2 linked regions of the Homo sapiens genome follow. The protein of the gene in region 1 interacts with the protein of each later gene in a pairwise test. Each region holds a gene or a part of one and is shown on either strand. Other genes may lie near its edges.

Region 1 (3,912 bases):
GCTTCCTAAAAGCTAGTGCCTCCCCAGGTCTGACAGGCACAGTATGGGAAGGGAGCACACTGAGCCCCAGGGCTGCCCTGCCGGGCCTTCGTGGATTGACCACGAGCACCTTGATGGCTTGGTCTGGCTTCTTCAGCCTGGCTATCTCATCATCGCTGGCACTGACGTCCAAGGCTTTGGTCTGAAAGAAGGACTCGGCCTTGGGGCGCTTCTTCTCTGCCACATACAACAAGTGTGTCTCCGAGTGCGACCAGGACAGGCAGCCAAAGCAGTCTGGGTGCAGGGAGGGCCAATCAGGGGGGGCCCAGGGCTACGGCTACCCCTCCTGTCCACCCTGCCTGCTCACCAGCCAGATGCCTCACCATCCTCATAAACAGGCCCATGTTTCTCCAGCGCTGACAGGTTGAAGCTCTTGAGCTTCCGGTTCTTCTCCCAGACCTGAGGACATCTGGGCATTAGGCTGTTTGCCCGCTAACAGAGCCTTATCTGTGGGGCAGAGCCTCTCTCTTGTCACCCACTACCTGGTCCCATGCAGACTCACCTCCAGGAACTGCTTCTCTTCCCCAGGGCCCGTGCCTCCAGCCTTGCGCAGCACAGCTTTCATGGTGCCTGAAGGAGACTCTCTGCTCAGCAGTCTGTGGACATGGGGTAGCACAGGTCAGGATTATCTTGCAATAACCCCTTCCTGCTCCCTACTGGGCACACCTCTTAGGAGAGATTCTTGAGGCTCTGGCCCCACACCAGCTTCTGGAGCACCTCTAGCCCCACCTTGCCTTTCCTCCCTGAGGCAGAGACTCTACTCTCTGCAACTCCCCAGGCCACCATGGGCTCTAGTCCAGGCTGAGTTTGGAGCAAGCTTCCAGTGCTTATCAGGCCATGTCACCAGAAACTGAATGAGCTCCCAAGGGGGCAAGAACCTGGCTGCTGGCCTCCCTTCTAGGCACATGGTGAGCATTCATAAAAGGCTTGCATTGCGGACGGCTGTGGCCTTGCCCACAAGCTTCCTCCCTCAAACTTACTCCCCCCGGGTCTCCACACTGTTGCCTGCAGGTCCTGCAAACACCACTGAGTCCCCGTCATGGAACACCAGGTATTGGCGGCAGAATCGAATGTTCTCCATGCGTTCCAGGTCCCTCTGGGTCCACTCTGTGAGGGGAGGCATGAGACTGCTCACCTTGTCTTGGCTACTCCTGGCTACTGCCCCCAGCCCCACCTGACCCAGGAAGGCCTAGATCTATCTTCCCCAATCTCTCAATCTGTCTCCAGACACTGACACCCTGGCTGCAGGCTGGACAACACTTGGCCACAACCCTAGTCCAGGCCTCCAGAGCCTGAGCTGACAGCCTCTTTGAGAGAACCCCCTAGTAACCCCAGCATCCACCCTGGAATCTTGAGGGCAGCCTGGCATGTGTATGGGATGGCGTGTTGGTGGAGAGCCCTACAAGGTCCACGCCCTGAGCCCAGGTTTGACTTCTACCCCTACGCCGTCATCTCGTGCACTCATGGCCGCCATTCGATAACGCCCCGCACGCCCCCTCCCCCCCTCCACACACCTGTGTGCAGGGACCTGTGGGAGTGTAACCTCCAAGTCCAGGCCGGCTCCCTATATACCCTTACGCACTGTCAAGCAGCGAGCCCTCCACACCCCCTTCCTTCCCACCCCAGTGCGCGACCCCGTCGCCAGCCAGTTCCCCTTCGCACACACACCAGTGTGCACCGTCCGGTATTGGCCGCCGTACTGCGTGGTGACCTCCGGGCCCAGGCAGGCGGCGCTCAGCGCGGGCTGGCGGCTAAGGCCCCGATACAGAGCCGCCGCCTCCTCGGGCTCGCTCAGCAGCACCTGCGCAGGGGACACACCAGGGTCAGGCCCGGCCCGGGCTGCAGGGACCACGGGGACCGCGGGCCGAGCCCTCACCTGACGTTCCATAGTCTCCTCTCTGCCGCCGGGGCGAGGCGGGGCGTGCTCGCGCCCGGAAGTGAGGCTTCCGGGGGCGGAGCCTGGGACGGCCCGGGCTGTCTCCGCCCCTGCCCTGCGGCAATCTGTGAGGGGCGGGGCCTTCGGCTAATGGGTGAGGACCGTTGGCAGGGGGCGGGCCTTGACGGTGAGAGGACCCGGCCTGGGAGCGAGAAGTCCTGGGTGGGTGAGAGCAGGGGTCTCGCCAGGGGCGGACTAGCCAAGTGGGGGGCGGGGCCGTGGGCTGAGTCCTGGGCCTCTTACCGAGGGGCGAGGCGTTGGATCTCGGAGGAGAGGGGGCGGCCCTGTGGAAGCGGAACCCGGGAGCCCGGCTTCGGGGAGGGTAGAAGGGCCTACGAGAGAAGGGGTTGAGGGGGTGCTGCAAGGCGGAAGCAGCGCGGTCGGACGGGCATGGCCCAAGCACGCGAAGGGCGGGGCCCGAGGGGAATGGGACCAATGAGTCTTTGAGGATGAAGGGCAAGGCGGGCGGGTCCGGATTGGAGCCCTGCGAGGAATGTGGAGCCGGGAGCCTGTGAGCGTGAGCGTGAGCGTGAGCGTGAGCGTGAGCGTGAGGGTGAGGGTTGGGCGGGGCGGAGCCGGCCGCAGCGTGGATCTCCCGCGGCTCTGGGGCTGACTGTAGGGTTCCTTCGGGTCCACCACGAGGCCGACATTCACTACACAGTGCCAGGCCCTGCCCTGGAGGGAGTTCCACGCAGACGAAGAAGAGAAGGGCCAGGGTCCGGGCGGAGGGCGCGAAGCAAAGCCCTGGGGTGCGGGGCAGAGGGGCGGGTGCCAACTCTTAGGGTGCTGCCCGGACTTATCAGTCGCCAGGCCTGCCGCAAGAGCTATCTATCCCCGCAGCCTTTACCCAGCCTTCTCAGTGGCACCTTGTTGGGGACCGTGAGCTGGTGGGTCCCTGCCTTCCTCCCCAGGCCTCACCCTGAGCTCTTGGGTGTGAAAGGCCTGGTGGGCTCAGACTCCACCCAGGACCAGGGAGCTTCCTGTGGAAAAAACCTAGGCAGGCAGGTTCCCTGTGCACGTGGTACAGGATTGGCTGGGCTAAGGTGCCAACAGAGATCAGGAGAGGCTGGACAGTAAGGATGTTCCCTCCATATACCTGAGTCTGGCTGGTCTTCCACATTCAGGGCCCTGGCTCCCTGCTCCATGGCGTGCTTGTGATTGAGAGTCCACTTGTCTGGCCTGTAGCTTCCCCTTTCCCATCAGCCGCATCATTACTTACTCAAGATAACTAGTTAAGTAAAAAAAAAAAAAAAAAAAAAAAAAAAAGTCCCGGCCGGCCGGGCGCGGTGGCTCACGCCTGTAATCCCTGCACTTTGGAAGGCCGAGGCGGGCGGATCACGAGGTCAGGAGATCGAGACCATCCTGGCTAACACGGTGAAACCCTGTCTCTACTAAAAATACAAAAAATTAGCTGGGCATGGTGGCAGGCGCCTGTAGTCCCAGTTACTCGGGAGGCTGAGGCAGGAGAATGGTGTGAACCCGGGAGGCGGAGCTTGCAGTGAGCCGAGATCGCGCCACTGCACTCCATCCTGGGCGACAGCCAGAGTCCATCTTAAAAAAAAAAAAAAAAAAGTGCCAGGCGCGGTGGCTCACGCCTATAATCCTAGCACTTTGGGAGGCTGAGGCGGGTGGATCACCTGAGGCCAGGAGTTCGGGATCAGCTTGGCCAACATGGAGAAACCCTGTCTCTACTAAAAATACAAAAATTAGCCGGGCTGGGTGGCACGCGCCTGTAATCCCAGCTACTCGGGAGGCTGAGGCAGGAGAATCGCTTGAACCTGGGAAGTGGAGGTTGCAGTGAGCCGAGATCATGCCACTGCACTCCAGCCTGGGCAACAAGAGTGAAACTCCGTCTCAAGAAAAAAAAAAAAAAAGAGTCCCAACTTTCTGACGCCACTGCATTTGTCAGTATGTACAGGACTGTATCAAGGCCAGAA
Region 2 (3,912 bases), on another chromosome or scaffold:
GTTTTTAATTAACCTCATACATTTATATGATTGAAGTTTTGGTCCCCAGATTGTATGGAAATGCCTAGTGGCATTAAGGATGCAGTAGGATGTCCACTTTTAGTAGCAACCGATGTTCATTCACTACTCCATGTTAGGTGCTTTACTTGGATTATCTCACTTAAAAACCACAACATTTTATCTCTGTTTTACAAAGGAAGAAACTAGAGGCTTAAAAGATTTCAGTTATTTGACAAAGATCACAAGCTAGTGAGTGTGACATGGGGAGCTGTGACAGTTCTGGAACATAGAGTCTTAGGCCCAGGAAATAACAGTAAATGTTATTATTAAGGGAGGGGTGGTGGAGCAAGTAGATCAGTCCTTTACTGATTCATTGCTTATCTAAGCTACAAAAGTACATTCTCCTTTGTTTCTTAGCTCTTGGAGGGGGGAGGTGTGAGCTACTAAAGGGGTGGCATCCCTAGGAAGTTTGAGTTTTGGGGATTCTTATTCAGCTTCCAGTGCAAGCCTGTGGGCAAGGAATGAAGGCGGAAGGAGCGGTGTGGAGGGAGGCGGTCCGTGGCGCCTCCTGCTTTGTTAATGTGCTTCATTTCACTCTTTTGATTGAATGATTGCCGGAAAGTGCAAGGCATTAAGAATTAAACTAATGAGAACCGAGGCAGGCGGACTGACTCAGATTTTAATTTTGATTTTTTTTTTTTTTTTTTAGATGAATGTGAAGAAGTAGAACATCAGTGCCAAAAGACTATTCAGCAACTGGAAACTGTCCTGGGAGAGCCACTCCAGAGCTATTTCTAAGACTTTCTGTGGTGTTTCATACTCTACTCAGAGTTCACACTCATATTTCATATTTTTATTTTTGGGTGTTGGGTGCCATGTTACTTTTGGTGCCTTAATACACCTACTTGGATTACTTACAAATGTTTTATCACTTCTTTACAAAATCCCCACCTGGCTTGTGCTGCCACATAAGCCTCTCCTGCCTATCGTATAGAGCTGCAGAAAGAGTAAATGATACACGGTATTTTTATACAGACTGCTGTGTTTGTTTAAACATTTATTATTCTCTTCCTGATTGATGGTAATAATATTAGACTTGTTAATTTTAGCACCCAAAGCTGACGCCTCATTTGCACTGTAAGCCTTAACTCTTCTGTACAGCAGTATCTTACATACATGGTATCCATGTTGCAGATTTCACTCAAAGTTGCTCTATTTCAAGAAAATGAAGTTATTTAGCAATCAACAGAAGTACTTTTGACTGTAAAGCCTACTTTTCATTTTGGGTAGGCGAACTTCAGCCTTCGTTTCTTTGTTGTGCCCATAAAGAGAAGTGGTTCTGGAATGCTTTTTTTAACCCAGGAGTGTGACTGTCACCTTTATCCTTTGTTCTTTTGGGAAACGGGAGAGATGAAGGCAACACGCTGCTTCTAAAACAGCTCACACCTGGCTGCTCACACAGAGGGCCCAGAAACACTGGGTGGCACGAGGAAGCTCCTCCAGGATTCAGAATGAACCCAGTTCCATTGGTGGTTAACTAAGAACTACTTGTCTAAGAAAGTAAGTATCAGTAGATTTTTTTCAATGCTTTGAAGTGCCCTAATCTCTAGTACTGGGTCATGGTGAAGTTGGAAAGTGAGGGTTCAAATAAAATTAGATCTGCCCCCTTTTTAAAGGCATCTAAGAACATCCCGTAGAATGTTCGCATTGAGTTTAAAAGCCTTTGAAGCTAATATAGAAGTTTAATGCAGAAATGTGGCAAGCAAAAGGCCAACTTGCATTTTAGAGACAGAGCTTGCTAGTATAGAAGTGCATATTTCTAAGAAATGTCTCAGTAAAATTCATTAATAAATACTAATAGCTTTTTAAATTTTTTTCCTCCACGTAAAATGAAAATGAACTTAAGACTTACAAGGAATGATGTGAGTGGGCTATTTTTTTCCTAAATGCCTCACAGTCTCCAACAGCTCAGTTAAGCACTCTGATGGTCTTTATGGAGAAAAATAACTCTGGGGGATTCTCGAGTCTTCTTGCCTTCTACAGCTTTCCCTGTGGCACCCTCCACCCCCAACCAGTGTCTTTGAGCTTGGTGAGACTCTGCATACATTAATATGAAAAGCTGGAAAAGAATTAAGGGCTAGCGATTTCTACACTGAGTACTTTTAAAAAAATAAGATTGACAATGGTATTCTTTTCAATATATGGATAGAAATAATATCTAAAATCTGTTCTGAAAATATTCCTAAATCCTGGCAGAGTTCTGCCCCAGTCTAATGTGATAAAATGATCCTCACTGACTGAGCTTTTTTCCCTCCCCACTCCCAAACCTTTGAAATTTCCTGTAACAAGATCTGACCTGTAAAGATCCCATATACATGGAACTTCTGCCAACTCCCCTCAAATAATAGAAAAATCACAGAAATGGAACCATTTAACTTGCTGATACAGGTTTGATTTTAATCACGTAAAGTGGAAGAGTGCTTTGATCTCAGTTGCTAATGATGATGGACTAATCTTTAGAAGAACGGAGGCCTTGATTGGTGATTTCATGGGAACAAAACAGATTTCTGCATTACCTCTGCCTGCTTTGTGGGTCCCTTAGTTGGCGTACACTTTCTGATAGTGCCTGCCTTATGAATGCCTGAAGTCTAATCCTGACCTTACTTTGTTGCCCATAAATATCTTTCAAATTGAATGCATCTTGCCTCTTCCTGAAACTTTCTGTAGGCGTCTGTGTAGACTCTGATTTGCCCTAAGTTCAAATACACAGAAATCAGCTGCCTTGGGCTTGGCATCAAGTTAATTTCAGCACCATGTATTTGTTTTGCTTTGGTTTTTTGCCTTAATTTCTGTGCTCAGATGTCATGCCAATTACTTGGTAAAGCTTGCAGCTAATAGAGCCACATGTTTATTACGATAAAGAAAATGATGTCAGTCAACATCAGTCCTCAGTGATGGGATACGGTAGAGCACTGGTTATGACAGTGATCACTGGGGAAGGAGTTGTGTCTTCTGTAAGTTAGTGTCTTCGGGTGATTTAATATCTGCATAACTAATCCCAGAGGACCCCTTAGGAGTTGATGTAATGCCTGTAGAAAAAGCAGTGCGCAGCAGTAGCGCACAGAAGAGTCGAAGCTCAAGAGAACAGGGAACATACTGGTTTGTTTCACCAAGTATATATCCTAGCTCTTCACAGTTTTACCAAAAAAAATCTGTGCTCAATACATGTTAGCTACTGTATTATAGTAGGTACTCCATAAATACTTGTTGAATGGCATTCTTGAAGAGTCAGCCAAAGTAGGAGAGAGGGCAGAGTGGCTTTAACTGGCTATAAGTGTTGCTGCCCCCAGTTTCCCCATTCAGTGCTAGACACCACCATACTTCATGGCAAGGACTGAGAACACCCAGCAGGACCTAATGGTGCACAAGCTCATTTTAACAATATAAACAATAGAATGACAGTGAGATGCGTTTCAGCAAGGCCAGTATCACAGAAGCCATTCTGTATTTTGGTTTTTGTAGCAGCTGTGTAGGTAGGCTACCAGCTCCTTACTTCCAGTAAGTGGATGTCTCCATTAATTTCCAGCGTGTCAATACTGCTGAGCTCTTTAAATCTGTGTTTGTACTCCAGGCTGTGTACGCCATTTACTGCAACCTTGAATTCTCTAACATCACAATAAATTATCATCTGAAAGGAAAGGATACATGCCATTAGTGGTTCCCCTTAGTTTAAAATTTTGTGTTTGTTACATGCTAACGGTGTCAGAGTAAACCATTTGATTATACATAGAAAAGTTCCAGCCTGCTGCTGCTGACTTCCTTCTGACTTCCAAGACCCTAATCTAACTAAAGTGTCCCTGGTGGTGGCACTGTCTGCCTCATCCCACCCAGGGAAGTGACTCGGACATGTTT

Evidence for each region.
Region 2: the proteins of APEH (region 1) and LGALS8 interact in binary tests that used the Homo sapiens proteins (3 or more experiments, as listed by UniProt).

Annotation. Positions count from the first base shown.
Region 1 is NC_000003.12:49,672,417-49,676,328, reverse strand, and holds the start of APEH (acylamino-acid-releasing enzyme), read right to left. Parts: upstream 1,928-3,912; coding exon 1,916-1,927; intron 1,841-1,915; coding exon 1,708-1,840; intron 1,147-1,707; coding exon 1,020-1,146; intron 636-1,019; coding exon 542-635; intron 439-541; coding exon 363-438; intron 274-362; coding exon 110-273; intron 1-109. UniProt on the Homo sapiens protein: This enzyme catalyzes the hydrolysis of the N-terminal peptide bond of an N-acetylated peptide to generate an N-acetylated amino acid and a peptide with a free N-terminus. It preferentially cleaves off Ac-Ala, Ac-Met and Ac-Ser.
Region 2 is NC_000001.11:236,547,788-236,551,699, reverse strand, and holds part of LGALS8 (galectin-8), read right to left. Parts: exon of another isoform or gene 3,739-3,912; intron 3,689-3,738; coding exon 3,539-3,688; 3' UTR 799-3,538; coding exon of another isoform or gene 710-798; 3' UTR 1-709. Other genes in the region: HEATR1 (HEAT repeat-containing protein 1), read left to right, coding at 710-798.